Homo sapiens: one gene and its partner. The protein of the gene in region 1 interacts with the protein of each later gene in a pairwise test. Each region holds a gene or a part of one and is shown on either strand. Other genes may lie near its edges. The genes, in order: RACGAP1 and KIF23.

What was found.
Region 2: the proteins of RACGAP1 (region 1) and KIF23 interact in a two-hybrid assay, tested with the Homo sapiens proteins (one study listed by IntAct).

The regions. Positions count from the first base shown.
Region 1 is NC_000012.12:49,988,914-50,004,672, forward strand, and holds the end of RACGAP1 (rac GTPase-activating protein 1), read right to left. Parts: intron 15,392-15,759; coding exon 15,322-15,391; intron 13,388-15,321; coding exon 13,334-13,387; intron 12,340-13,333; coding exon 12,259-12,339; intron 10,821-12,258; coding exon 10,703-10,820; intron 10,359-10,702; coding exon 10,228-10,358; intron 8,292-10,227; coding exon 8,127-8,291; intron 5,597-8,126; coding exon 5,501-5,596; intron 5,417-5,500; coding exon 5,218-5,416; intron 3,743-5,217; coding exon 3,637-3,742; intron 3,465-3,636; coding exon 3,332-3,464; intron 3,221-3,331; coding exon 3,085-3,220; intron 1,880-3,084; coding exon 1,771-1,879; intron 1,431-1,770; coding exon 1,355-1,430; 3' UTR 249-1,354; downstream 1-248.
Region 2 is NC_000015.10:69,413,789-69,429,547, forward strand, and holds the start of KIF23 (kinesin-like protein KIF23), read left to right. Parts: upstream 1-560; 5' UTR 561-677; coding exon 678-688; exon of another isoform or gene 689-1,321; intron 1,322-2,205; coding exon 2,206-2,275; intron 2,276-3,594; coding exon 3,595-3,723; intron 3,724-7,858; coding exon 7,859-7,964; intron 7,965-8,203; coding exon 8,204-8,340; intron 8,341-8,537; coding exon 8,538-8,647; intron 8,648-9,370; coding exon 9,371-9,541; intron 9,542-11,493; coding exon 11,494-11,535; intron 11,536-12,281; coding exon 12,282-12,394; intron 12,395-12,547; coding exon 12,548-12,669; exon of another isoform or gene 12,670-12,868; intron 12,869-15,322; coding exon 15,323-15,425; intron 15,426-15,759.

The DNA of each region.
Region 1 (15,759 bases):
TCAATTTTCCCACATTAGCTTCCCAAGTAGCTGGGACCACAGGTGTGCACCACCACGCCCAGTTAATTTTGTATTTTTTGTAGAGACAGAGTTTGGCCATATCTCAAACTCTTGACCTCAGGTGATCCACCTATCTTGGCCTCCCAAAGTGCTGGGATTAGAGGCATAAGCCACCAAGCCCAGCCCCAGAAATGATTTTCTAAAAGGCATTGAAAATTACCTTGCAAGACAAGAAAACCAGCCTCATGTTCATTTTGAAAAAGCTATTTACTTTTTTTCCAAATATTATCCCAAATAGGTGTTTTACAGATAAGGGTCAATACGAAGTCAAACATTCTACAGAAGAAAATCGTTTTTACAGACATTAAGAATAATTTTAACAGAAGAAAAAGCTCACATCTATCTAGATGTGGCTATGTTCCATGGGAAAAATTTCAGCATCCAAAGTGCAAAGAAAAAATGACTGTAGCTTTTCTTACCACAAAATATTGACAATCTTCCCTTATAGCCTACTCTTTATTGTTAGTTGGGATGCCAAAGGATGATATATTGACCTTTAGAAGTTGGGCTCCACTGGACAAGGTTGGGGGTATGGGGGCCAAGCATCAGAATGAATTCAATTTTAAAAGAAAAACTGGCTTTGACCCCAAATGAACCCAAAGTTCAGCCAGCAGCACATCAGAGATAAATACGAGTTGTACTTTCACATTTACAAGGTTGTGCCACTCAACACTATTAAAGACCTAATCATCCAAATCAAAGCTACGCATACTCCCATCACTAGTTCTGTCCTCAATGCATCCCATTTTTATGAAAGCTCCATATTATAGCTCAGTTCATAATGGGGAATGAGAACTTCTGGTTCTTAGAAGGAGGCATCCTAAATCCTCTGGTCTAATCCTTTCTTTGCCCTGCCCTCCCACTTCCCACCCTGAGACAAGCTAATCTTATCAGATAGGTAGGGTTTCTGTCATTGTCTCACGGAAATCAGTTCTAAATGAAACTAGAGAAAGATCATTCTATGAGCAGCATTTGGCTTTAAGCCAAAGGAACAATAACCCCCTTCCCCAAAAAGAATCACAACCAATTCCATACTAACCCTTCTACCCCTGGAAAGATGTCTCATCTAAAAGCTCCCAACAATGACCAGCACAAAGTGCTGATATTATGTGACTTGAGGAGAAGGAAGGGGAGATATATATAGTTTTAATAAAACCCTCATGCACAATTAAACTTGAGTAAAAGCCTGGAGAATGCTAAAAGTAGTAATGAGTACAGGAGGCTGCAGAGCAGAGTACAGATGTGTCCTTTCTTATAGTCAGTCAATGCTGGGAAGTAACAGGCAGATGTGACTTCACTTGAGCATTGGAGAAGCAAAAAAGTTGCCTTGTCGTCCTAGGTTAGTGGCAGACTTGCTTTTGCTCCCAAATCTACAATAAAAAGAGAATGAACTGGAAAAATATTCTATAAAAAATGGTTGAATAAACAACTATAATATTACTTGATATAACCCATTATAAGTAGGAAACCCTAGACAACTATTTTGCAATAGTTGCTTAAGTATTCTTAGTCACCAACAACGAGAGAGGGGAAATAGTAAAGACTTTCAGAACCTTTTTAAAGAAGGAATCCTTATAGCCCCACGTTCCCTTTTAAAGTCTAGTTGCTAGCTAAAATCGAATGCAATTTTTCTTTCAATAAGCTTCAATATAATAAGAAGTCTAAGAAAGTAGTTGTTTTTTATTTCCTAGGAAGGCCAATTCTGCATACCTAGGAGTGTTCTTGGTGAGGGTGGAACGGACTCTCTGTGACAGGGAACTAGATGAAGGAGTCTTGAGAAGCTGATGTTCAGGAGTGGTCACAGGTCCCAGTAAACTCACTTCAAAGTTCAGACATATTTTTAAGAGAGGTGGGAAAAAAGAAGGCATCTTTTTAGATGGCTAGTTTTAAGCTGATTACCCTCTGAAGCACTTAAGAGCTAAGGTTAGACATCTAGCAAAGTCCCAGAGATCATTTTTGTCATCATTCTGTAACACACTAGTGTATCTTTTGAACTCAATGAATAGCTGACACGTCCTGATTTAGGCCATTCTCTAACTCCACACTTCACAAATCTAACATCTAAACATCTGACTTTTAGCTATACTAGAAGAAGCAATATGCTCCCTTAGAAGGAACTTGCAATAATGAAAGAATGGGTCTCCAATGCCAGTGAGACTGGAGTGAAACCAGCCTATTCATATAAAATTGTTGGTTAGCAATATAAATTGGCAAAAGCCTATAAGAAATTTAATAAATCAAGTTGGTAAAACATACCAAGACACATAAAAATGTTCAAGCCATTTAATTCAGTGATCCCACTCTTAGGAATTTATCATTAAGAGAAATGCTATATTGACTATAGCATTACTTGTAATTATGAAAAATTGAAAAATAATGTTAATACCTACTAGAACATTTAAGTAAATGATAAATAAGATTATACATGAGAAAAAGTTCTCACAACATGCTAAGTGAAATAAGAATGAATTATATTTAAACTATTATATATATATATATATATATATTTTTTTTTTTTTTTTTTTTTTTTTTTTAGACAGAGTCTCACTCTGTCACCAGGCTGGAGTGCAGTGGCGGGATCTCAGCTCACTGCAAATTCCGCCTCCTGGGTTCCAGCAATTCCTTGTGCCTCAGCCGCCCTGGTAGCTGGGATTACAGGCATGCGCCACCACACCCAGCTAATTTTTGTATTTTTAGTAGAGATGGGGTTTCACCATGTTGGCCAGAATGGTCTCAATCCCCTGACCTTGTGATCCGTCCGCCTCAGCCTCCCTCCCAAAGTGCTGGGACTACAGGTGTGAGCCACCATGCCCAGCCTATTATATCTATATTTAAAAAACATATATCCATATGGATAAAGAAAGGAGAACATGGAAAAGCAAAAAAAAATTACGATGGTAGAATTATACAAATTTTCCTTTAATGTTAGAATTTTCAAACAGCTCTAGCAAAGGCAGGAAGAGGTCATATGACTAAAACTAAAGAGAGAGTCAAGTCCCTGAAGAAGCACATCTTGGGCCTTACCTTTAATATCTGGTGTCTGTGGTGTTGAAAAGGCATTTGAGTTTTCAATGACATGTAGGGGGTCAATGTTCTCTTGCTCCACCATCATGAACTGACTCCAATACTCCAGAGGCAAGGAAAGCAGGCGCTCAACCACCTAAAAGCCAGCAAATCTGTTAGCAAACTTCCAAAGCTCAGGGCTTCTCAACTGTCTTTCAAGTTATCACATTACACAAGTTCACATACACACACACACGCACCTGCCTACCTTGGGTTGACGCTTGATGTCCTGTAACATTGTCACTGGGTCTGGATTGGGCACAGCATGGGCCACTATTGTAGGGCCAAAGACTTTAGCCAGATTGGCAACATCCATTTTAGTATGTGGACTCTGAGCCACTCTAAGCAAAAGAATATTAAATTAGAAGTCTTGCTCCTTGCTTAAATGCAGACCAAAATATAAATTCTATAAGAAAACAATTCATCCCTCATACTCCCAAACACTCAACCCACATTATCTTCCCCTTGGAAAAAAATTCCCTAACTCCCAGAACAAGTTTCTGCTGTACTCACCTCTGCAAGTGAATCATGAGGAAAGCTAATGTGTCCCTGTTGGCCTGGGGCAGTTCACCAACAGCTTGGTACATGGCAGCTATGCTGTTGTCTTCATCTGTGATTTCTGTAATTGAAAAGAAAGCACCAAGAGGCCTAGACTTCTTTCCCTTGACAGCGGGCTTCCAAGTTATCGACCACAAAGTCTCATCTATACAGTAAGCTTCTGAAACTCCTGATTAGTTCATGACTACATCAGACTCTAGTTTCATTAACAAGCAGGATACTGGCCAACAGCTCAATATTAGAAGTCAAAACTTTTAAAAAATCGGCCTTTGCAGTTAGGGAAAGCAGTTGGCAACTGATGTGCTAGGCAGACAGGCATACAATTGCAGTGACTACAATTACCAAGAAGGTATTCATTCATGAGACATATTTAAGGGCCTACGATGTGCCAGGTACAAGTGCTGAGGATAAAGCAGAAGTAAACAAAGCCCTTATCTTATGGAACCTACATTCTATTGGTGGAGTCAGTCAAAAAGCAAATACCTATCAGGTAGAGTGATACATAAATGAAGAAAACAAGGCAGGCAAGAAGCTAGAAAGAAATGAGAGCTGTTAATCTAGACAAGGTTGTCAGGAAAGGTGTTTCTGGGGACAAGGTATATGAAGAGAAATATGAAAGAAATAAAGGAGCAAACCATACTGTATCTAATGTAAGAGCATTCAGGTTGAGACAACAAATGTGAAGGCCTTAAGGTAGGGAGTAAACTTGGTATATTCTAAGAATTGAAAAAGCTCCAACCTAACTGGAGAGGAAGGAAAGAAAGGAAGAACACTGTACACAATAACGTAATGAGAAAGCAAGAGGATAGGCAAGGGTGACACGCATACAGTTACTCATCCATCAAACTACTTGAGCACCTACTATGTTTCAGGCATTGTACTAGGCAGGAGCTAATAAAAAGAGGAAGGTGGCCAGGTGTGGTGGCTCATGCCTGTAATCCCAGCACTTTGGGAGGACAAGGTGGGTAGATCACCTGAGGTCAGGAGTTTGAGACCAGCCTGGCTAACATGGTATAACACCGTTAACGCCTGTAATCTCAGCTACTCAGGAGGCTGAGGCAGGAGAATCGCTTGAACCCAGGAGGCGGAGTTTGCAGTGAGCCGATAGCGCCACTGCACTCCAGCCTGGGCGACAGAGAAAGACTCCGTCTTAAAAAAAAAAAAAAAAGAGGCTGGGCACGGTGGCTCACGCCTGTAATCGCAGCACTTTGGGAGGCCGAGGCAGGCAAATCACAGGGCAGGAGATCGAGACCATCCTGGCTAACATGGTGAAACCCCATCTCTACTAAAGATAGAAAACATTAACCAGGCATGGTGGCACACGCCTGTAATCCTAGCTACTCAGGAGGCTGAGGCAGGAGAATCGCTTCAACCTGGGAGACGGAGGTTGCAGTGAGCTGAGATTGCGCCACTGACTTCAGCCTGGGCGAGAGTGAGACTCTGTCTAAAAAATAAAAAATAAATAAAAAAATAAAGAGAGTAAGAAAAACTACTGCCGTGGAGGAATTCATATTCAAGTATTACATCTGCCCTTACCTGCTGCTTCCATAAAGGCTCTGTTAAGGCGAAAGGTCAGAAGAGGTTCTTTGAGGTTTCGAAGAAAGTCTTTTAGAAGGCTACAGATAGCATGGATATCATCCACTTTGCTGAGGAGGGGTACAGTTTTCACTCTGAGGAATTTCTCTTTCAGCTCTTTTACTGTGCGGTCACAGCCAGAGATCCTATACAGGCCTGTCTATTATCAAGATGACATTTTTATTTAAAAACCTCCGAATTAACACAAATAACAAATTCACCATCTCCTACAGTTGACTCTTACCTCAGTCAGACCTCTTTGCTCAATCTCATTTACACAATGCACAACAATGGAGGGGATCATTGGAGAAGTCTGGGACACAAAGTCTGCCAGCATTCCCTGGAAAAAAAAAAGAGCTTTAAATTATTATTTACGCCATGTAGACCAACAGATGAAGACCACATGCGAAGAACCACCTCCAATCTTATTCTCAAACTGGGACATCATGTCTACTTTTACATTCCTATTCCCAAAGCATATATTAAAACAGAGACTCTCAATTATTTTTCCTACCTCCACACCAGGACTGATTTATTATCATATATACCACACTTTTTCTTTTTCATATATACACCACACTGTTATGTGAACAAGGAATAAGACCACCAGCTATAATTACCTCCTTCTCATCCACTCAAGGACAGCAGAAAACAAGCAATAATGAGGTTACAGGTATAGCCTTTAATATAAAATAATTTATTACTCTAAACAGATTTTTTTTTCTAACAGAAGAAAGCTGGAACAAGAGAAAAAAATTGTGTATACTTTCATTATTCTCAGTAAAAAAAATTATTTAACATATCTTATCAGTTGATTATGACACAAACCTACCTGTAGGGGAGAACTCCATGGTTCTATATTAGAGTACAGAACATGTGTAAAAAAAATGTACAGGCGGCCAGGTGCGGTAGCTCACGCCTGTAATCCCAGCACTGTAGGAGGCCGAGGTGGGCGGATCACCTGAGGTCAGGAGTTCGAGACCTGCCTGACTAACATGGAGAAACCCTGTCTCTACTAAAAATACAAAATTAGCCAGGCATGGTGGCGCATGCCTGTAATCCCAGCTATGAGGGAGGCTGAGGCAGGAGAATCGCTTGAACCCAGGAGGTGGAGGTTGTGGTGAGTCGAGATTGCGCCATTGCACTCCAGCCTGGGCAACAAGAACAAAACTCCCTCTCAAAAACAAAACAAAACAAAACAAAACAAAACAAAATGTACAGGCATGGATAAGAACTTGTAAGATCAGGGGAAAATAATATTTGATTTGCTGAAGAGTAGGTAGGAAGATAGTCATTTTGATTCTTGCTAATGTTACTTACATAATAATTTTTTTTTTTTTTGAGATAGGGTCTTGCTCTATTCCCCAGGCTGGAGTGCAGTGGTGTGATCACAGCTCACTGCAGTTTCAACCTCCCCACCTCAAGCAATAGTCCAACCTAGCCTCCTGAGGAGCTACAAACACAGGCGCACACCACTAACCTGGCTAACTTATTTATTTATTCTTTGTAGAGATGGAGTCTTGCTTTGTTGTCCAGGCTGGTCTCAAACTCTTGGGCTCAAGTGATTTTCCTGCCTCAGCCTCCCAAAGTGCTGGGATTACAGGCATGAGCTACCACACTCAGCAATAAATAATTTCTTAATGGATTTAATCAGTTTGGATTAAACTGGTTAAATATTTGGAAATAAGCAACTTCATTTTGATAACCTATTATGAAGTATGTCTAACATAAGAGCAAGAATAAAAGATAATTTTATCACAGATAAAATTATATGATAGCTGAGATTTGCTTCCAAGTAATTCATTGGACAGAGTCAGGAGGAGGCAACGACAGTATTGATAAATCAAGAACAGACATAAAGGCTGGGTGCCATGGCTCACACCTAGAATCCCAACACTTTAGGAGGCCGAGGCAGGCGGATCACTTGAGGTCAGGAGTTCAAGACCAGCCTGGCCAACATGGCAAAACCCCGTCTCTACTAAAAATACAAAAAAATTAGTTGAGCATGGTGGCACATGGCTGTAGTCCCAGCAACTTGGGAGGCTGAGGCATGAGAATCACTTGAGCCCAGGAGACAGAGGCTGCAGTGAGCCAAAGTTGCAACACTGCAATCCAGCCTGGACAACAGGGAAACTCTGTCTCAAAAAAAAGAGAGACATTAAAAAAAGAATGGACATGACCAGGCGCGGTGGCTCACGCCTGTAGTCTCAGCACTTTGAGAGGCTGAGGTGGGCGGATCACTTGAGGTCAGGAGCTTGAGACCACCCTGGCCAACATGATGAAACCCCATCTCTACTAAAAAATACAACCAAAAAAAATTAGCCGGGCATGGTGGTGGTACATGCCTGTAATTCCAGGTACTTGGGAGGCTGAGGCAAGAAAATCGCTTGAGCCCAGGGGGGCGGAGGTTGCAGTGAGCTGACATCCTGCCAGTGCACTCCAGCCTAGGCAATAGAGCTAAAAAAAAAAAAAAAAAAAAAAAAAAAAAAAAAAAAAAAATGGACACAAGTTAGTAATCATGGAAGTTAAGTGATAAGAACCAGGGGTTAGTTATACTAATTTCTCTAGTTTTATATATGTCTGAAATTTTCCAAAATGGGATGAAGGGGAGGAAGGAAGGAAGAAGAGGCAAGGAGAAGCAGGGAAGAGCAAGAAGGAAAAAGGGGCGGGGAAAGAAGTTTGGTTTAGAAAGGTATTAGACAGACAAACCCAAACAGGACTCTTCTACAAGTAAGTATCTTACAATTCTAGTCATTATTTGTGGAAAGAAATATATTTGAGATGATTAATTTTAGAACAAAAACTGACACTAAGCCTTTGAAAGGCGAATAAAGAGGCCATAAAACAATGACGGCTTGCATAAGTCATACCTCTCCAATCTTGACAGGTGTTCCTATCAGGGTAGGAATGCAGGGAAGGGGACAGCGGTCCCGACATTCTGGATGAGAGACCACACGACAGTCTCGACACTTCAGAGATAATTTGCCAAATTTTATCCGCTTTCCACATGGAACACAGGATTCAGGTTTAATAACCTGGGATAAAACAGGGCAGAAGGAACAGAGTGATATGAATTAGAAAATTATCATCATAATCAACTAACTTTTTTTTTTTTTTTTTTTTGAGACCGAATCTCACTCTCTCGCCTGGGCTGGAGTGCAGTGGTGTGATTTCAGCTCACTGCAACCTCTGCCTCCCAGGTTCAAGCGATTCTCCTGTCTCAGCCTCCCGAGTAACTGGGATTACAGGTGCCCACCACTACGCCCAGCTAATTTTTCGTATTTTTAGTAGAGACAGGGTTTCACCATGTTGGCCAGGCTGGTCTCGAACTCCTGACCTTGTGATTCACCCACCTCGACCTCCCAAAGTGCTGGGATTACAGGCGTGAGCCACTGGGCCTGGCCTTTTTTTGTCTTTTTTTGAGACAGAGTTTCGCTCTTGTTGCCCAGGCTGGAGTGCAATGGCGTGGTAGAGGTTGGCTCACTGCAACCTCCACCTCCCGGGTTCAAGCGATTCTCCTGCCTCAGCCTCCCAAGTAGCTGGGATTACAGGCATGCGCCACCACGCCCGGCTAATTTTTATATTGTTAGTAGAGACGGGGTTTCTCCATGTTGGTCAGGCTGGTCTCGAACTCCCGACCTCAGGTGATCTGCCTGCGTCAGTCTCCCTAAGTGCTGGGATTACAGGCGTGAGCCACTGTGCCCAGCCATAATCAACTAACATTTATTGAGCACTTAGTATGTGCCAAAAAATTTTCTAAGCCCTTTAGACATATTTACATATGTAATTCTCACAGTAATCCCATAAAATAGGTTTTGTTTTCTTCATTTTAAGATGAGGAAACAGAAGCAAAGAGAGTTTAAGTAACTTGTTTAAGGTCATCCCACTGGAAGGCAGCAGTGTGTGATAGTGGAAAGAACTTGTTTACAAAGAGCAGAAAACTTGGATGTTGGCAGGGCATGGTGGCTCACGCCTGTAATCCCAGCACTTTGGGAGGCTGAGGCGGGAGGATCACCTGAGGTCAGTAGTTTGAGACCAGCCTGGCCAACATGGTGAAACCCCATCTCTACTAAAAGTACAAAAAATTGGCCGGGCATGGTGGTGGGCACCTGTAATCCCAGCTACTCGGGAGGCTGAGGCAGGAGGATTGCTTGAACCCGGGAGGCAGAGGTTGCAGTGAGCCGAAATCGCACCACTGCACTCCAGCCTGGGCAACAGAGTGAGACTCTGTCTCAAGAAAAAAAAAGAAAAAAAGAAAACCTGGATGTGAAATCTGTCACTTACTATCATGTGGCTCAAAAATGTCAGTTAACTCCTCTGAGCCTCAGTTAATTTGCTTGGATTTTTATAAGGAAATAAAATGGTACAAAAGCAAAACATTTTGAAAATCTTAGGTGATATATTCAAGAAAAAATGTAAACATGTGTCACTAAAAAGTACTAACAATGGGCCAGGCACAGTAGCTCATGCCTGTAATCCCAGGACTTTGGGAGCTGAGGCAGGGGGAGCACTTGAGCCCAGGAGTTCAGGACCAGCCTGAGCAACATAGCAAGACCAAGTCTCTACAAAAAATTTAAAAATTAGCCGGGCGTGGTGGCACACATCTGTATCCCTACTACTCAGGAGGCTGAGGCAGGAGGATTGCTTGAGACTGGGAGGTTAAGGCTACAGTGAGCTATGATTACACCCCTGCACTCCAGCCTGGGTGACAGAGTAAGACTCTGTCTCAAATTAAAAAAAAAAAAGTACTAACAATTGCTTCAGAAAAGTTGGTCTCTTTAATTTAGTATTACTCACAGAATGGAAAGAAACTTACCTCTGTAACCAATAGTTACTTCTGGAGAGTAAAATTGGAATGAGGAAGGAAATTTGACATTTAACTTTATAACACTAAAGTATTTAACTTTATTCCTGGTATTTATTACTTTCACAATTAAAAAATTAAAACACAAACAACAATCACAGATTTACCGTCTTAGAAACAAAGTCATGCAGGCGCATCCCTCCATTACTCTGTGGCGTGCCCACACTGTCTGTCTCAGTTCTTGGCTCCAGCTGCCTGCTGTTCAGGGTGGAGTCACTGTTCCAAGGTTGTAAAGTACCTAGAAAACAAGCAACTTTTAAGCTTTGTGTCTTAAGTATTTTGCTCCTTCTAAATTTTAGCTCCAATTTTAACTGGGAGATAAACAGTAATCTGTTATCATAGCCAAAAGTGAGAACTAATGGCTATGTAAAAAAACAGTTTCAAGAAAAACTAAAGTTATGCCAGTGGGCTAGCAATTCAAAGGTAAAGCATGACACAAGCAGTTCTCTGGTCCTCGGTATGCAGCAGTAAGAAACTACCCAATACATCCAATCCCCGCCTCCAGAGGGTTCTAAGAAACCAACTCTCCAAAATTTTGCTAGTTGTTTTACACAGGCCAGTTTAGTCACAAATTCAATGGACCTGTTTTCCTTCGGCTCCTGGTCCAATATGGCACAGTCTCAATAGTGGACACAGCTTCGATGGGCCCGCCATCATTGGGAACAGTCACTGTAGTTTTTGCAACTATGGATTCATTCCCCTGCAACAAAAGTAGTAATGAGGAAAGACAAACAAAGAATCTAACTTACCCTCCACTATAGGGTATTTTGGAGCAGGTAAAAAATTCCTTAGTCTTAGTCAAGACTTAAGACCCCAGTCTGATACTTTTTTTTTGAGACAGAGTTTTTCACTCTACCGCCCAGGCTGGAGAACAGTGGCGTGATCTCGGCTCACTGCAACCTCCGCCTCCCAGGTTCAAGGCATTCTCCTGCCTCAGCCTTCTGAGTAGCTGGGATTACAAGCATGCGCCACCACACCTGACTGATTTTTTTTTTTTTGAGACGGAGTCTCGCTGTGTCGCCCACGCTGGAGTACAGTGGCCCAATATCGGCTGACTGCAAGCTCCACCTCCCGGGTTCACGCCATTCTCCTGCCTCAGCCTCCCGAGTAGCTGGGACTACAGGCGTCTGCCACCATGCCCAGCTAATTTTTTGTATTTTTAGTAGAGATGGGGTTTCACTGTGTTAGCCAGGATGGTCTCAATCTCCTGACCTCGTGATCCACCCGCCTCAGCCTCCCAAAGTGCTAGGATTACAGGCGTGAGCCACCGCGCCTGGCCGACTGATTTTTGTATTTTTAGTAGAGACGGGATTTCGCCATGTTGACCAGGCTGGTCTCGAACTCCTGACCTCAGGTGATCATCCACCTGCCTAGGCCTCCCAAAGTGCAGGGATTACAGGCGTGAGCCACCACGCCTGACCTGAAACATTCTTATGTTGAAATCTGATGTTTGGCTGGGTGCAGTGGCTCATGCCTGCAATCCCAGCATTTTGGGAGGCCAAGGTGGGAAGATCACTTGAGCCCCGCAGTTCGAGTCATCCTGGGCAGCAAGGAGAGACTCCCCCTCTACTTTAAAAAGTAAAAATAAAGAAATCTCGTACCTAAGAAGATAAACATAGGTCATGGGGGTATATATTCAAGCAACTAAGACTCACTCTGACAGTTGTTTACTACATCAGAGTAATTCCATTCATAGGGATAAGGATCCTACTGCATAGAAAAACTTTAACCAAAGGCCAGGCACGGAGGCTCACGCCTGTAATCCCAGCACTTTGGGAGGCTGAGGCAGGTAGATCACCTGGTCAGGAGTTCGAGACCAGCCTGACCAATATGATGAAACCCTGTCTCTACTAAAAATACAAAAATTAGCCAGACGTGGTGGCATGCGCCTGTAATCCCAGCTACGTGGGAGGCTGAGACAAGAGAATCACTTGAACCTGGAAGGTGGAGGTTACAGTGAGCCAAGATGGTGCCATTGCACTCCAGCCTGGGCTACAAGAACAAAACTCTGTCTCAAAAAACAAACAAAAACTTTAACTAAACATCATGTCTCTCAAAACAATGCTGCAATGCTGACTCAGAGAAGTTTTAATGCTTGGGGCCAGTAATCTCTGTTACCTTGGCCTGACTATTCTTACCTGGTCTACTGCAGAGCCAATGGAACGAGTTTTCTTTACAGGTCCAGGGGGACCATCAACAAACTGTCGGCTAGTAGAGCGCTAGAAAGGAGACAAAGACCCGTAACTTTAATGCCAAGCAGATCTGAAGCACAGAAGATAAAATTATTCCATCAAACAACTTGGATACAGGTCCTGGGGATTAGGGCTACAGTAAATAACAAACAATGTGTTCTCTCTCTCTCTCTCTTTGCCTATTTCCACATGAAGAATAAGCTGTTTCAAAAGAATATGTTGTACAAAAATGCTCTCAGTGCCCTAGAAAAAATGAGCAAGCTATGGAGAAATTTAGATGACACCACCAGAAAAAGTACAGCTGTAATCCTAACTAAGGACATGAAGTCTTGGAAACACATTAAGTACCCTAAACAAGCATACACAGATAGATCTCTATATATCCCATTATATGAAGCTTATATTAGAGCACAAAAGTTCTGTGTAAAAATTCATATGACAATTCAAAACAAACTTAAGTTTATCCTTTTCCACTGTATGAATGAATTGAAATGCAGCCTAAACAGTGAAATGGACAGGATTCTGTCCTAAGTTACTACTTCAAAGAGTACCAGTACTGGTTGGGAGCAGTGGCTCACGCCTGTAATCCCAGCACTTTGGGAGGCCGAGGCAGGTGGATCACCTGAGGTCAGGAGTTCAAGACCAGCCTGGCCAACATGGTGAAACCCCGTTTCTACTAAAAATACAAAAATTAGCCAGGCATGGTGGCAGGCACCTGTATCCCAGCTGCTTGGGAGGCCGACGCAGGAGAATTGCTTGAACCCGGGAGGCGGACGTTGCGTTCAGCCGAGATCGCGCCATTGCACTCCAGCCTGGGAAATGAGCAAAACTCCGTCTCAAAAAAAAGAAAAAAAAAAAAAAAAAAGAATATCAATACTGTCCCCACAGCATGAATTCATCTGTAGTATGTGCTTAACAATGGCTAGAGCAACATGACAGGAATGCAGTATCATGGCAAAATTTCCAAAAATAACTCCATTATTACTTTGTTTTAAAAAAAGACTAAACAAATCATACATACCCTCTTTTCTCTCTTCTTCAGTTTGAAAGTCTTCACCAAAGAAGAGTCCCAATCCTGTTGACAATTACACTGTATTAATTTCTTTTTTTGGTTAGGCCATCCCTAAACCCTGTGCAAATAAATTTACAGAGAACTTTAAAGGCTTCTTCAGTCAGGCTACCTAACGTACAATTCGGGGAGGGTTAGAGAAGGGAAGGTCTCAAGTGTTGTAGCTATAGAGCTATAGTAAGTTAATGTGCTTTCTTTGAAAAATTGAAGCTATTATAATAAAATCAGGAATCAATACCACAGAGGCAAGAAGAGGTTAAAGAATCAAATTCTGCCATATTTCCAGTGGCTGATCCTTTATTTCTGATTATTTTTGTAATTAGTTTTAGAACTTACAGAATGTTAGGCACTATACTGATTGTATTAGATGTGATTCTTGCCCCCAAGGGATTGCCACTGTCTAATCAAATGCTCTGCATAATATTGCCACTTCACAAGTTCCACAGTTGCCAGGCGATGGCTCATGCCTGTAATCCCAGCACTTTGAGAGGCCAAGGTGGGCGGATCATGAGGTCAGGATATCGAGACCATCCTGGCTAACACGGTGAAACCCCGTCTCTACTAAAAAAATACAAAAAAATTAGCCAGGCGTGGTGGCGGGCGCCTGCAGTCCCAGCTACTCTGGAGGCTGAGGCAGGAGAATGGCATAAACCCGGGAGGCGGAGCTTGCAGTGAGCTGAGATTGCGCCACTGCATTCTAGCCTGGGTGACAGAGTGAGACTCTGTCTCAAAAAAAAAAAAAAAAAAAAAGTTCTACAGTTTAGGAACTTAGGCCCTAAAACGTGTCCACCACTGAAGAACTATTTGTCTTTTATTGTGGTCTCATTTCAATTCACCTATTTTAACTATTTGCATTCATTTTAGTAGTTACCTGTGATTTCCTTACTCCTGATCATCCCTGAAAACAGTATCTAGAAACAGTGGTATACAGCAAATAATAGCTTAGCTAAATAAATTTAACTTCCCCAAGTCATGGTCCAGTAATTTAGTTACTGGTTGTTTGATTCAGCTTCAGTTACAAGAAATATCGTATCATAGGTCTAGCTCAAAAATCAACTGATAATATGATCTAGTTTTATTATATATTCCAGACCTCCACTATATCATTCCCTATTTGAGAAAGGTGATGCCTAATATTTTTATCTATAAAATGGCCGTATTTTCCCTGGTCAAACACTGAATCTGAACAGAAAACTCCTAGCCATGTAACAAATAGTTGTCACCTGTTTTGCTATACCAGAAAACCAGTCACCAAAAACTTCCTGATTTGTTTTGTTTGCTAGTTTTCAGCTAGTAACAGAAAAGATGCACAAATCAATGAACTATATCAAAGACTGTATCAGGAGATGACCTTTTATGCAGAAGCATCACTGTAAGTTAAAAGAAGTGTGCCGCCCCATAAAAGCAGGGCAACAAATAGTTTAACATGTTAACCATTGTTGATGAAAGCATTATATAGTGCCTAGAAACTCTAATCACACTTTTCTGGCTGAAATCCCAGGACCTTGGTTTCCTTCTAATTGTGAAGTATGACTATGCTTTCCCCAAGAACCAAACTAATTCAGAAATAAGGCACAAGTCTATTTAAGAGCAGCAAATAAACCCTGACGACATACAGTCTTGCTAATATTTTTATTATTAGCTGGGGCTTTAATAAGTCAAAATATAATCAGTTAGTACATGTGGCACACAGAGATCTATTAAATGAACTCAACTTATGCCAAATTCTGAATTATATATTCTCACTTCAGAAACTAATATATAAGCCAGCCTCTTATAGCTCATGTGGATTTATATTTTAAATTGCTAGCTCAGAATCTATAACACATCAACTAATAAAATAGTAATATAGGATGTTCAGAAGAGAAGACAGGAGAGATATTCCTGGGGAAGCAGAGGTAAGAAAAGTAGGTAATTCTCAGAGATCAAATGTTTATTACCAGTGATTCATCAGTCTTGTCAAAGCTGATATCTGATAAAATGGAACCAGATTCATCAATGGTTGATAGTCTAGATCAGTGAAACAATACAACGTTAGACATGGTAGACTGTGGAATGTAAAATTCACCAACATTCAGAACAAGTCCTACTGGTCAGGTAACATCAGTTAATTTCATAGCAAAATCTTCACTATAGAGACAATTACAATCTCAAACCCTGTGGTAGGCTACTTTGTATGGTTTCCACGGAGGAGTGTGTGTGCATGAGTACAGGTGCAACACAGTTGCTTTTTCAGCAAAGACCTTATAAGGGCAGTTGAAAGTTAGTCAGGGTTATGGGTGCTATTCTCTACCGAGTTTGTATTACAGGCTACTCCAAATTCACAAAATCAAGGGAATGAAGTTTAATTTGATCCCAACTGTGCTGGTTTCTACAAA
Region 2 (15,759 bases), on another chromosome or scaffold:
TTGCAGTGAGCTGAAGACTGCAGTCCAGGCTGGGCGACAGAGCAACTCCACCTCAAAAAATAAAAAAGGAAAAAAAAAAGATTTGATAAAATAATGTACATATAGGACAGAGCTGGAGGGAAACCCAGGAAAGGTGAATCAGAGAGAGAAAAGACGCCAAGATAATGTGGTGACTTGGGAGCCAGAGAGACGGAGCCTGAGACTTGGAGCAGGGCACAGCACAGGAATACAACACTTTTCACCAGAACGACATTCCGACCTCTGAATCAACCCTGGAAAGGCCCTTCCATTGAACTTCTTGTGATGGAGGAAAAGAAACCCTCAGTTTCGTCATCGCAAGGCGGAAGAGTTTAAATACCATACCTCAAGATCTCCCTCCAGCCCTGACACGCGACTCCGCGGCCCTTTCAGCGTCGGTCGCCTAGGAGACAAGCGCCACTTCCGGCAGCGAAGTCACTTCCGCGGAGGTCCTGCCTCTCCCTGCGGACGGGCGCTGATTGGCCCGTTTGAAATGCGCCAGGCGGGAGCTCACCTGGGCTCTTAGCGTCGCCGCCGGCTTCGCAGAGCACCGCGCCTTAGCCGCGAAGTTCTAGTTCTTGCTGCCGGTCCTAACGTCCCGCAGTCTTCGCCAGCCAGCCGTCCCGCATGCGCGTTTGGGCGGCGTGGAGCCTGCTGCCATGAAGTCAGCGTGAGTACGAGGCCGCCGAGCAGGGAGAGAGGGCGGACGGGGGCCGAGGCCTCGGGGCTGGGGGCAGGCGTCTCCACTCAGGCCGCGGCCGTACGCGGGCAGCGCGGACAGCATCCCGCCCGGTGCTGCTGCGGCCGCGACCCCAAAGTGGGAACCTCCACGTGTGGCCGCTCCGCGGGAGCCTGGGCGCGGAGACCCCTGCCGCGTCGCCCCCCGCCGCCCCGCCTGGGCCTCCAAGGGGCCAGGAAGGGTCGGCCCGGAGCCGGGGTTGTTTTACGCCGCACCCGGTTCCCGGGGGCGGGGCAGTCCTCCTCGGGGTCCCGGGACAGCCTTTCCCTTCTCCCTCGCTGGCTGCCGCCGCCTCCAGAGTGCAGTTGGCCAACTTAGTGCGGGTCGGAGGTGGTCTCGTGTGTGGAGCAGAGCGAGTGTGCTGGGCATTGGTTAGATGGGCTCCGTTTCTGGAGAGCCCTGGCACCGGTGATCGCCGCTAGCTTTTTTTTCAGCCGAGCACCCTGTCCTTGAGGCCGAGCCCATCCGCTTACACAGGCCAGTTACTTCTGCTGTATTTTGTGGCCGCAGAGAACCTCCGCCCACATTCCTAAGCTAATATTTTCGGCGCAGCATCATTCCTGGGTAAAGAAATATTTGTCGTGCAAAGGAGAGGATTGGCTTTATTACCATTTAGGGAGTCGTTTGCAAAAGACAACTTGTTTATTAAGAGGCCGAAGTCAAAATCTTTAGATGAAAAAAATTATATATAAGAAATATACGTTGAGTTTAACTTAAGCCCACCACAAAGTATTTTGCACTGAATAACACGAATTTGCTTGTGTTTCATCTGAGAATATGTTTGGAAAAATATTTTTAAACTACAGTCGAAGCCAATAATCTTACTTAATTTTAATGTGTTAAATGTATATCTAGCCTATAGATAAATGTGAAGGGAAAAAGATGAGATGCTAGAGAAATGGTGAAATCAATCAAAATAACTTTTTGATTGCCCCTACTTAAGAAACCAAGAAATTGGCAGTTTGGGACCAGATTTTGTTTGGAGACAAAGAGTAATGTTTTGAGCATTCAATGACTGGTTGTTCCTTGAAAGTACAGGCGTAACCCTTGACGAAAGAATGGTTTCCTCCATGTGCATTTTTATAGTGTATTGAAGTTAATCGCTTGTCAGTCTGTAAAGTGTGGGCAGTTATAATTTGTAGTGCCTCTGTTAAATTGTTGCTCAAGAAAATATGCAAGCCATTTTAAGTATAGAACTAATCAGAGAATAAGTAGGTAGCTTTGGTACCAAAAATGTATTCTAAAGCAAATTTTAATTACTTTTGGATTACGCATGCCACAAACACTCTGCTACTATGATTATTAATGTTATTTGGGATGCAGTGTTTTGCAACTGCTAAGGGATAATTTACAGATAACCTAGAAAGATTGTATAAGTTTTAGGTGAGGCTTTTGTATTCGTGTTGAACTGAAAAAAAAGTTATTATTATTTTTTAATCTATGACCAGGAGAGCTAAGACACCCCGGAAACCTACCGTGAAAAAAGGGTCCCAAACGAACCTTAAAGACCCAGTTGGGGTAAGGTATCCCTGTAAATTTATGTGTGGTGTTTAAGAAACTTATCTCTTCAGTCCTTTCTGTCTTATGTGTATGCTTGGAAGGGAAAGAAGAAGACATGTGGAAGTATAATCAAAGAACATTTAGTTAAATGGATGTACTACATTGTGTAAAACTAGTGCTAGCTGTGAAATTTTCTCTATAAGATTAATTAAATTAGTCCAGTAAAATGAAGTCTTTGGTTGTCAACTGCATACCTTCTGTAATTATAATTTGGAGAGTTAGATAATTAAAAATCTCCAACTGGGTTCATATTCATCCCAGAGAATATGAACTGAGTTCATGCCATACAGTAACTGATGGCATGAGGAGAGTTCCAAACTTCTTGGGACCAAGTTTAATTCAGTTAAATTATGAAGAAAAAATGAAGCAGGCAAAAAGAATAAGAATTTTAAAACAAAACAACAAATGGCAAACAAAAAGGGTTCTTTGCTCTGAGGTATTTTAAATCTATCCCTCGTTGCCACTGGAGTGGGTCCCTGGCTCTGAGTTAAGGGAACCGGGTGCTTTGCACACAGCTGAATGAGTTTTCCTCAAGCCCCCTCCCCTGCTTTCAAAAATGTCTCTGTAGGCTGGGTGCGGTGGCTCACATCTGTAATCCCAGCACTTTGGGAGGCTGAGGCGGGTGGATCACCTGAGGTCAGGAGTTCGAGACCAGCCTGGCCAACATGGCGAAACCCTGTCTCTACTAAAATTACAAAAATTAGCTGGGTGTGGTGGTGGGTGCCTGTAATCCCAGCTACTCGGGAGGCTGAGGCAGGAGAATTGCTTGAACCCAGGAGGTTGCAGTGAGCTGAGATCATGCCATTGCACTCCAGCCTGGGTGACAAGAGAGAAACTCTGTCTCTAAATAAATAAATAAATAAAAATGTCTTTGTATATTAAATGTTGGGTTAAGCTGACAAGTTTTTAAATTGACATCCATTTCCAAGAAATTCTAACAGTTTTAAAAATCTCGTGTGACATGTTGTTGACTTTTAGAGATATTAGTAGTAGTATAACTATTATTTGTGTACAATATAATAGTGAATACACTGCAATTTGATTTTTATTAAAATTTATTTTAATTTTGTGTGTATTTAAAGTATTCTCATATCTAATACATACTTGTATTTGTCAATCTCAAGTAGCAGATTTTAATTTTCTTAGCCCTTGGAGATACAGAGCTCTTAAATTGAGAGACTGAATGTTTGTTGAATGAATGAATGAATGAGAAGCTTAAGTGAAAAATCAGGCAAAAGGTCGAACTTTCTTCTTAAAGCACCTTCCTATTTCTTCAGGTATACTGTAGGGTGCGCCCACTGGGCTTTCCTGATCAAGAGTGTTGCATAGAAGTGATCAATAATACAACTGTTCAGCTTCATACTCCTGAGGGCTACAGACTCAACCGAAATGGAGACTATAAGGAGGTAATTCTGATTTGGACCAAGTTGTTTTTACTCAATATGTTGTTTCCTGAATGACTTCTAGATTTTTAGATGTAACAAAGTTCATTTGTGAGCCCACATTTTCAAAAGACTTATTTACTTCATTATAACCACTGTATCTAAAGTGTTTTTGACTTCTGGGATGCACAGACATACCTTTGGTATGCTGGGGTTAGAGGATTGCTTTTAGCAGATAATTTCTTACACTGAGTATTATTGTTTCTTAGAGCATGTGTTAGGGATGATTTAATGTGGAATGATACATGATTGTGCTAGGCAGTTTTATATATACAACTTGATGTGTGGAAATGAAAATAACATTTAATAATAGACATTGTTTACTTGCATCAACCTCCTATGCAGTGTTTTTATTTTTAGTAAAGTTTTGAGTCAGCTCAAAAATATTGTTTAGCAAATGTGCTAAGCTAATAGTTGGAGGGTGGAAGGAGATTAAAAAAAAGAGCATGACATACTCCTTGCCTTTAGAAAGTTTATAACTTAAGATATATGGTAAACAAATAATTCTCATATAAATAAGACAGAAAGTTAGATGTGCTAAAGATGAGGGGACCGTGGGAATGCAGTAGGATTAATTCAGGCTACCATTTCTACTTCTAGCTGTCACTCACTCTTTTGTGCCTACTATTCCTGTGAAATTGCTCTTCAGAAGACTACCAGTGGCCTCTTTGCTGCTAAATTTGATGTATACCTCTTCATCCTCATTTTAACCTGTTTGTCAGCAGCACTCTCCTGTCTCCCCCTCCAGCTCTCCTTGTATCTCCAGCTGAAACCTTTTCTCTGGCTCTCAACATTCAACCACTTACTTGATATCTCTGCTTGGATGTCACATGTGCATCTCAAATTTTACATGCCCAAAAAGGAGTTCTTGATTTTTCTTATTCCCTCTCTAAATACTTCCTCCCTTGTTTTCTTCTCAAGGAATGGCACTATCGTGTGTCCAGTTGCTCAAGCCAGAAACCTGGTACCTACCTTTTACTTGCCTCTCCTTATAACTAGTTCATTAGTAGCTCCTATCAGTTATATTCCAACATGTGTCTTGAAACTGTCCTTTCATTTCCATCTCCACTGCCACCACCCTAGTCTGAGCCCCATTATTAATCACTGAGACCAGAGCTACTGTAATGAAGGAGTAGCTTTTTTATTTTTAATGCGTCACAGCTGAGACTTTTGTACAACTTGTGCTAGATGGAACTGCCCGTGTGAGTTAGACAATAGGGAACTAGTTCATAATCTCTTCATAGAGATGAGCCTATTGAATACATGCTGAAATACTGATAATTGAGCAGTGCCAGATGGAGGCTCATGCCTGCAGTCTCAGCACTTTGGGAGGCCAAGGTGGGTGGATCACCTGAGGTCAGGAGTTCAAGACCAGCCTGACCAATATGATGAAACCCTGTCTCTACTAAAAATACAAAAATTAGCCGGGCATGATGACGTGTGCCTGTAATCCCAGCTACTCAGTAGCCTGAGACAGGAGAATCACTTGAACCCAGGAGGCGGAGGTTGCAGTGAGCCGAGATCGCGCCATTGCACTCCAGCTTGGGCAACAAGAGTGAAACTCCATCTCAAAAAACAAACAAACAAAGAAACAAACAAACAAAAAACAACTTTCTAAACATTTAAGTAGTCTGGTAACCAATCTCAGACTGGCATTGGTTTGCTGAGTGTGCTTTGGGTATCATTGACAAGACTTCCAAAGCCCAACTGCCTCCACTTGGAATCTTCTCTAATCCATTTCTACAGAGCAGACAGTGATCTTTTAAAACATAAAATCTCATTTTCCTGTTCAAAACCTTTCAAAGAATAAAATCTTTGAACAGACAAAATCCTGCTTCATCCGTCTCCCATCTGTCTCTCCACCTTCATTCATCTTTTAGTATTCATCCAATCCTTTGAGTTTCTTGGATAAGGCAGAATCCTGGCTGTTAGCTGTTGCCTTAACCTGGACTTCTCTTTTTCTGGGTCTTAGCATGGGTCATCGTTGGGTTTCAGCTTAAATATCACCTCCTCGGGTTGTATAGACTACCCAATCAGAAACAGCACCCCACAACCCCTCTCCCCTGGTCTGTACTCTGTATGCCTCCTTTACATTACTTAACCACAATCTATTTGTTTACTTGTTTATTGTCTTTCCTCTACCATAATGTAAACTTCCAGGGAATATGTACCTTATATGTTCTGTTCATCAAATAGTAAATATGGCTTCAGCAAGAATGAATGGTCTGGGAGGGTTTTTTGGAGGAGCAGGTCTTTAAGGATATAATATAGTTAAACACTGATTTACTGAGTTTTACTTCTTTAAGTAAATTTCAAGTATGTATAAATATAGGTATCGAGTAGGTATCGAGTAGGTATAAAAAGGTTTGATGGGGATTAAAAATAGTCACTGCTTTCTGACAGAAGGCAACATTGTATAATGAAAAGAGCATTGCTGCCGGGCATGATGGTTTACATGTGTAATCCCAGCACTTTGGGAGGCCGAGGCAGAGGGATTACTTGAGATCAGGAGTTCGAGACTAGCTTGGCCAACATGGCGAAACCCCATCACTACTAAAAATACAAAAATTACCCAGCGTGGAGGCATGCGCCTGTAATCACAGCTACTCGGGAGGCTGAGGCAGGAGTATTGCTTGAACCCAGGAGGCAGAGGTTGCAGTGAGCCGAGATCCTACCACTGCACTCCAGCCTGGGTGACAGAGTGAGACTCTGTTTCAAAAAAAAAAAGAAGAAAACAAAAACATTGCACTGATGATGGCTTTGATACTAATTAACTCCATGGGCTCAGAGAAGTTTCACCTTCGGGCCTCAGTTTTCTTTACCTTGAAAGGAGGGAGTCATTCATGAGGACTGTGAGGTCATCTATCTTCTCAGTATTAGCCTATGTGTATCCTTTCAGTTCCAAGATTCTTTGTTCTTTTTGAACTCTAAAGCTGATTTTTACAGGATATTTTATTAATTGTATTTAGAGAGCCTTGATAATTGAAGTATTCTTGCTTTCTTAAAGGTCACAATTTATTTAAAATGTATTTCATGTAAGAACTCAGAGATGAGATAATATTTACAGTTTACTTCTGGTTTTAAACTATAGTACATCAAAACGTGGTATTATGCTGCTATGCCATTTTATTTTATATGTCTTTTTTCTTTTTCTTTTTTGAGACAGGGTCTCACTTGTTGCCCAGGCTGGTGTGCAATGGTGTGACCACAGCTCACTGTTTTTTGGTGAGGTTTTTTTGTTGTTTTTACTTTTAAAATTTTTTATTAGATGAGCTTGCCCAGGCTGGTCTCTTAACTCATGGCCTCAAGTGATCCTCCTGCCTCAGCCTTCCAAAGTGGGATTATAAGTGTGAGCCACTATGCCCATGCTTTGCTATTTTAAATGACACCTTTATAAAGAAAAACTAGGAAACAGTAAAGTTGTGTATGACATAATGCTTGTAGATTTCCACAAATCTGTGACTATGAATCGTTACAATACCTTTTGATCTCTGTCACTTAATTAAAACAAAATCAGCCTTAGATTAGAAGCATTAGTAGACTTAAGACTTTTCTACATTTTTGGCCAGGTGTGGTGGCTCACGCCTGTAATCCCAGCACTTTGGAAGGCTGAGGTGGGTGGATCACCTAAGATCAGGAGTTTGACACCAGCCTAACATGGTGAAACCCGTCTCTACTAAAAATATAAAAATTAGCCAGGTGTGGTGGCACGTGCCTGTAATTCCAGCTACTTGGGAGGCTGAGGCAGGGGAATCGCTTGAACCCAGGAGGCAGAGGTTGCAGTGAGCCGAGATTGTGTCATTGCACTCCAGCCTGGGCAACAAGAGCAAAACTCTGTCTCAAAAAAAAAGAGTTTTCTACATTTTCTTTAGTAGTTGTGACTGAAAACGTTTACCAGTTTATAATTGGTATGATATAGGTATGTCATGACTTTTTAGTAACTAAATAACTAAGGGTTCCAACTGTAAAAAGACCATTTATATTTTTTCTTTGCATGCTTAGATCTTAAATGTCATAAACACCTTAAGTTTAAGGAGATGTATTTTTAGCCTAGATAATAGTGGAATTCTATTTAGTGCATTTTTTTCTCTCTCCACAGACTCAGTATTCATTTAAACAAGTATTTGGCACTCACACCACCCAGAAGGAACTCTTTGATGTTGTGGCTAATCCCTTGGTCAATGACCTCATTCATGGCAAAAATGGTATGATATGACTCTTGGAGTTTTGTTAGATTTTCCTTTTTCTCCTCTTCTGATAAAACTTTTTTGATATTTATATATTTGATTTATGTTTGGTGTTGAATCCATATTTAATTTGTTAGGGTGGTGCTAAACTTGCCTTTTTTGAGCTGGCTAATTGTTAGTGTTTTCTAATGCAGTGAAGAAATACTCTAAGTGGAGAACTTCTAAGATATAACTCATTGTGACTTGCTACACTGTAGGTCTTCTTTTTACATATGGTGTGACGGGAAGTGGAAAAACTCACACAATGACTGGTTCTCCAGGGGAAGGAGGGCTGCTTCCTCGTTGTTTGGACATGATCTTTAACAGTATAGGGTCATTTCAAGCTAAACGATATGTAAGTATGATTCTTTTGTGTTGTGACTATCTTACTGGACTAAGACACCTATGGATACAGTAGTAGTAAAGAAGAACCAAAGCACTGGATTCATTTTGAAACCTTAACTGTTCCTTAGTTTTTAAACATATTTCTTACTATTTAAGTTAAATTCTAAAAAACGTGGTGTGATTTTTTTTTTTTTGCCCCCACTTCAGGTTTTCAAATCTAATGATAGGAATAGTATGGATATACAGTGTGAGGTTGATGCCTTATTAGAACGTCAGAAAAGAGAAGCTATGCCCAATCCAAAGACTTCTTCTAGCAAGTAAGTAATTATATTTGTCTGCAGCACTGGCCTAGGGGCACAGGATTCTTTCCTGTGGTTTGCCCAGACATGAGGAATGGTGAACATTAAATAGAGAAGTTGACTTTTGTGAGATTAAAGTTAAGGAATGTTCTTAAGTTCTTTGCTCAGATGTTTTCTCTTTGGCTTTGAGCACATTTTGTTTCAATCACTGTTTTAAGAGGGTGCCACTCTGGATGGGGAGAGGGTATAAAAGCCATTGTTGTGTGTTCGGGAGGACGTGGGAATACTGTTGGCAAACCATGAGTATGAATAAAGCTGCTTTGTGCATTTCTGCTTGTAATTGCAGATATTTATTTTATCTGTTAGTTTCCCCTTGGGATCAGTTACTTTTTTTTTTTTTTGAGACAGAGTCTCACTTTGCTGCCCAGGGTGGAGTGCAGTGGCATGATCTCGGCTCACTGCAACCTCTGCCTTCCAGGTTCAAACGATCCTCCTGCCTCAGCCCCCCTAGTAGCTGGGATTAGAGGCACACGCCACCATGCCCGGCTAATTTGTATTTTTAGTAGAGACGGGGTTTCACCATGTTGGCCAGGCTGGTCTTGAGTTCCTGATCTCAGGTGATCCGCCTGCCTCGGCCTCCCAAAGTGCTGGGATTATAGCTGTGAGCCACCATGCCCGGCTGGGATCATTTACTTTTAAAATGGACTTATAACGTATACAATTGAACTTTTCTTTTTTTAGACGACAAGTAGATCCAGAGTTTGCAGATATGATAACTGTACAAGAATTCTGCAAAGCAGAAGAGGTTGATGAAGATAGTGTCTATGGTGTATTTGTCTCTTATATTGAAATATATAATAATTACATATATGATCTATTGGAAGAGGTGCCGTTTGATCCCATAAAACCCAAGTAAGTAATAAAGAGAGCCCCTTCTTAGCTGTTAATGTTGGGGAAGTTACTTTGCCTCAAGGAGTTTTAGTTTCTTCAGTTATGAAAGAGAATAATGCTTGCATTTGTTTTCAGAATGAAATGATATAATTTGTATATCACGTGGTTTTGTGTTTGAGTATGTTTATTATTAACTAGATATGTACCTGTATTAGGGAACTAGTGGGTTAAAGCATCTAAGGAGAAGAGGGACCCAAATATTCATCTTGGAGATTACTTTTGAAAACTCTGGGCCCTGGGCTATGTTTTGAGAAGGATCTTAATTATATAATTAAGAACGTTTCAAGAACCTGAGACAGTAAAAGGAGTTTTGTAGGCTCTTTAACCACCCGTGTCTTGGTGATTTCTACAGACTGGAGCCTAAAGCTGTTATCTATACAAGTAATACTTACATATCTTCTATCATTCATTAATATGGTATGATATCTGCACTGTAATTCCATCAGAGTTGAAATACTACTTCCTAGATTTCCTTGGGTCTTGCCTTTCTGAGACGTAAGACTGGTTACCACTTGGCATCACAAATGATAAATCTGCATTTGTGCCAGAGTTGACCCTGGGATCTTATGTTTAATATTAGTATCTTGTTCCTGAGTTGATGGTTTTGTTTTTCAGCTAAAGGCTTGTCTTTAATGCTGTCTTTATTAGGGCCTCTCAGGACATAAATAATACGAAGACCTGTGGCTTATATTTAACTTTGTATATCTAAGGGAACATTATTGGAGAAACAGCTGGATTTAGAAAATCATTAGACTGAGAATACATACCAGTATATCCACTTTTAATTACATGAAGAATTTATGGACTCTGGTTGAGGCCATACTTGATACAAGCATTTCTGTGGTTCTTAGTGAGTCACATTTTGATACAGTTATCTTCACCAGAGTCCTTGAATTTTCATCACGTTTATTGGGAAAACAATTACAATATGGCTAAGTAAGCTAAATGTAAAAATATTAACACTCTTAATACTAAGAGTTTATGCCAAGGAAGACTCTTTGGCTCTGTTTAACATTTCTTCAAGTGAGAACTTTACAAAGGGACTTATTTCTGGAGTGACCTATCTATATTTACCCTTGGAATGTTGGTAATAGTAAAAATACTTGGGTTAGGTTGTGGAGCAATACATGGAAGAGTTAAAACCTTGTGAGACAGTTACTTTTTATTTATTTTTGAGACAGGGTCTTGCTCTGCCATGTCAGCTCACTGCAGCCAACCTCCTGGGTTCAGGTGATCCTCCCGCCTTAGCCTCCTAAGTAGCTGGAACTACAAGCACAAGCCACCATGCCTGGCTAATTTTCTAATTTCTTGTAGAGATAGGAGTGATAGGGGTCTCACTAGGTTGCCCAGGTTGGTCTCGAACTCCTGGCCTCAAGCAGTCCTCCCACCTTGGTCTCCCAAAGTGCTGGGATTACAAGTGTGAGCCACCATGCCTGGCCTGACCATCACTTTTTATATCAAACTAATTACTTTCCCATTTGTTTTAAAGTGTCAACTGTCTTGACTCTAATCTTGAGTATACCCATTTTCATGTATGCTCGTGTGCCAACTTTTTGTTTGGTTTGTTCTAAATGAGATTATTTTCAAAGGATCATATCTTGGCTTTATTTAGTTATACAAAAGAAGATTGACAAAAGTACCTTGTGTGCTTTGTAACCTTTCTGGGTAACTCCTTAAATGAACATACAAGGGTGCTTGTTTGGCCCTGAATTCAGATTTAATTTGTTAGGTTGGTGTTAGACCTGCTTTTTTAAGCTAGTTAACTTTTAGTACTTTTAATACAATGAAAAACTATTACAAGTGGAGGGTTTTTAAGATATGACTCATTGTGATTGTCACATAGTCTGGACTGAACATGTTGGTGTGAGATGGCTGCTGTAGAAACAGTAACTTCTACCTTATTCCTTTGGTAGGTGGAACAGTTGCAGCACACCCATGAGGAACACAGATTTTGTGTATGTGATGGTGTTGGCTCTTTTCTTAAGGAGAAGGGTGCAGTTATACTATGGTTGGCATTCTGTGGCATGTTTGCATGTAGGTTATTTTCCATTGTCACTGGGCTGGCTGCTGTCTCTAAGCCCTCCTTGCTTCCTGAAAAATCTGCTATTGACTATCAGTGATGGTGGCTGGTAAATGTCTCTACCCTCACCATTCACAAGACTTAAGACCAAACAGGTAGCTCTCATACCCAACCTTCATCTTGTCATACAGACTAAAACTTCATAAGCCACTTTGAAAGGATTGCCACTCCTGGTATATACCAAACTCTTTCTGAATTTGTTTTCTGCTGTTGCTGAGGAGGTCAGAACTGGTTCTATCTGCTAGTCTTTTCAAATTAGGAAAATACTAGATTTTGATGCTTAACCTGTGCATGTGATGTTGCTGTAATACTACTTTGGTCTCTAAATTGTTTAGTGTATTGTTTCATGTGCTTTCTTAGAGCAAATTAGAGCAAAGCTTTTAAAACAAAATTGGTTTCTGTTATCTTGTTACTTAACTAATCTTGACTATTTAGCTTTACAATCTTATCTAAGTTTAATATTTCTCTGGAGTATTATACGTTATATATATATTATAAAATATATATAATTTTCATTAGAAGAATAACATGTCATGTCACTTGGCGTTTTAGTCCTAGTCTTAAATGAAGATACCAGCATCTCATAATTTAGGAGACTAATCTTTTTTTTCTTTCCCATAGACCTCCACAATCTAAATTGCTTCGTGAAGATAAGAACCATAACATGTATGTTGCAGGATGTACAGAAGTTGAAGTGAAATCTACTGAGGAGGCTTTTGAAGTTTTCTGGAGAGGTTAGAAACACCTAGAACTAGAAAAATACAGAATGATGAATATCACCTAGAGTTGCTACTAAGTTTGATGGCAATTTTTTTTGACTTATTAGAAAGCATGTATAATGAAATGACTGAGTTCAGGTTTGACCAATGATTTCTCTGTTGTCCTAGGCCAGAAAAAGAGACGTATTGCTAATACCCATTTGAATCGTGAGTCCAGCCGTTCCCATAGCGTGTTCAACATTAAATTAGTTCAGGCTCCCTTGGATGCAGATGGAGACAATGTCTTACAGGTAAAGTTGTAGTATGTGGAGTTTTTCTGGTTCTAACTCTATCCTTAATTTTTGGAATTAGAGTAATCCAGCCAACATGGCAAAAACCTGTCTCGAGTAAAATTGGAAAAATCAGCCAGGCATGGTGATGCACCACTCCTGTAATCCCAGCTACTTGTGTACCTGAGGCAGGAGGATCGCTTGAACCTGGGAGGCAGAGGTACAGTGAACTGAGATCGCGCCACTGTAGTCCAGCCTGGGTGACAGAGTGAGACCCTGTCTTGAAAAAAAAAGTTAAATTAGAGAGGTTTTATTGCAATGAAGATTGCTCTAGAATAAATATACAGTTGGTTCTCTGTATCTGTGAGTTCTACATCTATAGATTCAACCAACTGTGGATTGAAAATATTCGAAAATAAAATGCTGCATTTGTGCTGACCATGTACAGACTTTTTTTGGTCATTATTCCTTAAACAATACAGTATAACAACTTGTTACATAGTGTTTACATTGTATTAGATATTATAAGTACTCTAAATATGATTTAAAATATACAGGAGGGCTGGGTGCGTGCGTGGCTCATGCCTGTAATCCCAGTGCTTTGGGAGGCCAAGGCAGGAGGATCACTTGAGGCCAGGAGTTTGAGACCAGCCTGGACAACAAAACAAGACTCTTGTCTTTGCAAAAAAATAAAATAAGGCTAAAAAATAAAAAAATAAAAAAATAGAACTTTAAAAAGTGTATGGGAGGATGTGCATAGGTCATATGAAAATACTACACCATTTTATACACAAGATTTGAGCATCCATGGAATTTGGTATCTGTGAAATTTAGTATCCATAGGAGATCCTACAACTAATCCCTCGAGGACACCAAGGGATGACTCTGTATGTAGGCGATGACATTAAAACTTTTTTTTCCCCATTATTATAGTTTTGGGAAGCTGGATATCGAATCTTAGAGCCTGAATTTTGCTGTGAAAAAAGTTTGCAAATCTTTAAAAATCCCTTTGGTAGAAGTGATAAAATAAGACTGTGATTTTTTCTCTCTGGCGACTCCTTCTGTAAGTGGAAATTCAGTTAGTGGTTTTAAAATGTCAGTAATTCATTTTTCAGGGTAGGTATAGTTTAGGAAGTGGCTAGTGTTATAAGTTGTTCATCTCTTGGTCGATAGGCCAGTAGGGTCCCCCATATGCAGATCACTATTTACTGCCTGGCCTGCCACAGTACAAGGCTTGTGTCAATTAGTAACAGCATTTGAGTCTGAGTATACATAATCTAATAACTGTAATCCATTAAAGTGTAATTTTATTCAAACTGTATCATGAAATTGTGGCATTATGAAGATTTATAAGTGGCAGGAGTGGTATTGAAGACCTCCAGGATTTGAATGCTCATTTCTATTTATTTACCGACTAGCTATAATAAAACCTCCTTATAAGGTTGTGAGAATTAAAGGAGGTAATGCGTGTAAAGTTCTTAGTCCAGTGCTTAGCTTATAGTCAGCCCTCAATAACCGTTAGCTAGAAAATAGTTATAAGGGCCAGGCGCAGTGACTCACGCCTGTAATCCCAGCACTTTGGGAGGCCAAGACGGGTGGATCATGAGGTCGGGAGATTGAGACCATCCTGGCCAACATGGCGAAACCCCGTCTCTACTAAAAATACAAAAATTAGCAGGGCATAGTGGCGCATGCCTGTAGTCCCAGCTACTCGGGACTGAGGCAGGAGAATTGTTTGAACCAGGGAGGTGGAGGTTGTAGTGAGCCAAGATTGCGCCACTGCACTCCAGCCTGGCGACAGAGTGAGACTCTGTCTAAAAAAAAAAAATGGTTATAAGTCAGCCTTCCATATGCACCTGATTTCCATTGAATCACATCTAATATTACAGCATTAGTTCGGTACCACTTGACTTTCACTTCTTTTTATAAGAATTATTTGCTGGGCGTGGTGGCTCACCCCTGTAATCCCAAGCACTTTGGGAGGCTGAGGCGGGCGGATCAACTGAGGTCAGGAGTTCGAGACCAGCCTGGTCCACATGGTGAAACCCTGTCTCTACCAAAAATACAAAAAAAATGAGCTGGGCATGGTGGCACACGCCTGTAATCCCAGTTACTCGGAAGGCTGAGGCAAGAGAACCGCTTGAACCCAGGAGGGGGAGGTTGTAGTGAGCAGAGATGGCGCCACTGCAATCCAGCCGGGAGGTAGAGCGAGACTCTGTCTCCCAAAAAAAAAAAAAAAAAAAAAAAAACAAAAGAATTATTTATAGCATTATGAAATTATAAGATTATTAAATATCTGATTATAGAAGAATTTAGGATAATCCTGTTCTAGACTCTTATTCAGCAAATATCTGCTGAGTTCCTACTCAGTGGTAGGCACTGTGCAGCATGCTGGTGATAAGGTAGTAAAAGACAGAGTCCCTGCTCTCAGGGGGCTTACTGTCTGATGCAGAAGGAAGACCAGCCAATTGACAAGTAATCATTAATGTCATGAGTATATTTATCATACTCTTCTAGCAAACTCTCCCCTAAAATAGGTATCCTTTGCCTGTCCTGTGCATTTTGTACTGTGCAAATGTTCATTAAGACTTAGCTTGTTGATATGAATCTATTTAAAGAACATTATAAACCAGTTATAACCCATTTTAAGTTATTGGCTTTGTGATCTTTTTAGGAAAAAGAACAAATCACTATAAGTCAGTTGTCCTTGGTAGATCTTGCTGGAAGTGAAAGAACTAACCGGACCAGAGCAGAAGGGAACAGATTACGTGAAGCTGGTGAGTAAAGCATGGTATTTATTTATTGCTACAACTTTCAGAAACTTGCAATGCCAGTTTATTATCTACTTATCAATGGGTGGTTCTTTGTTTTTTAATTTTTATTTTATTGAGACGGTCTTACTCTGTTACCCAGGATGGAATGCAGTGGTGTGATCATGGCTCATTGCAGCCTCAAACTCCTGGGCTCAATTGATTCTCCCATTGTAACCTTCTGAGTAGATGGGACTACAGGTATGCACCACCATGCCTGTCTAATTTTTAAAAATTTTTTGTAGAGGTGGGGTCTCCTTATGTTGCCCAGGCTGGTCTCAAATTCCTGGGCTCTAGTAAT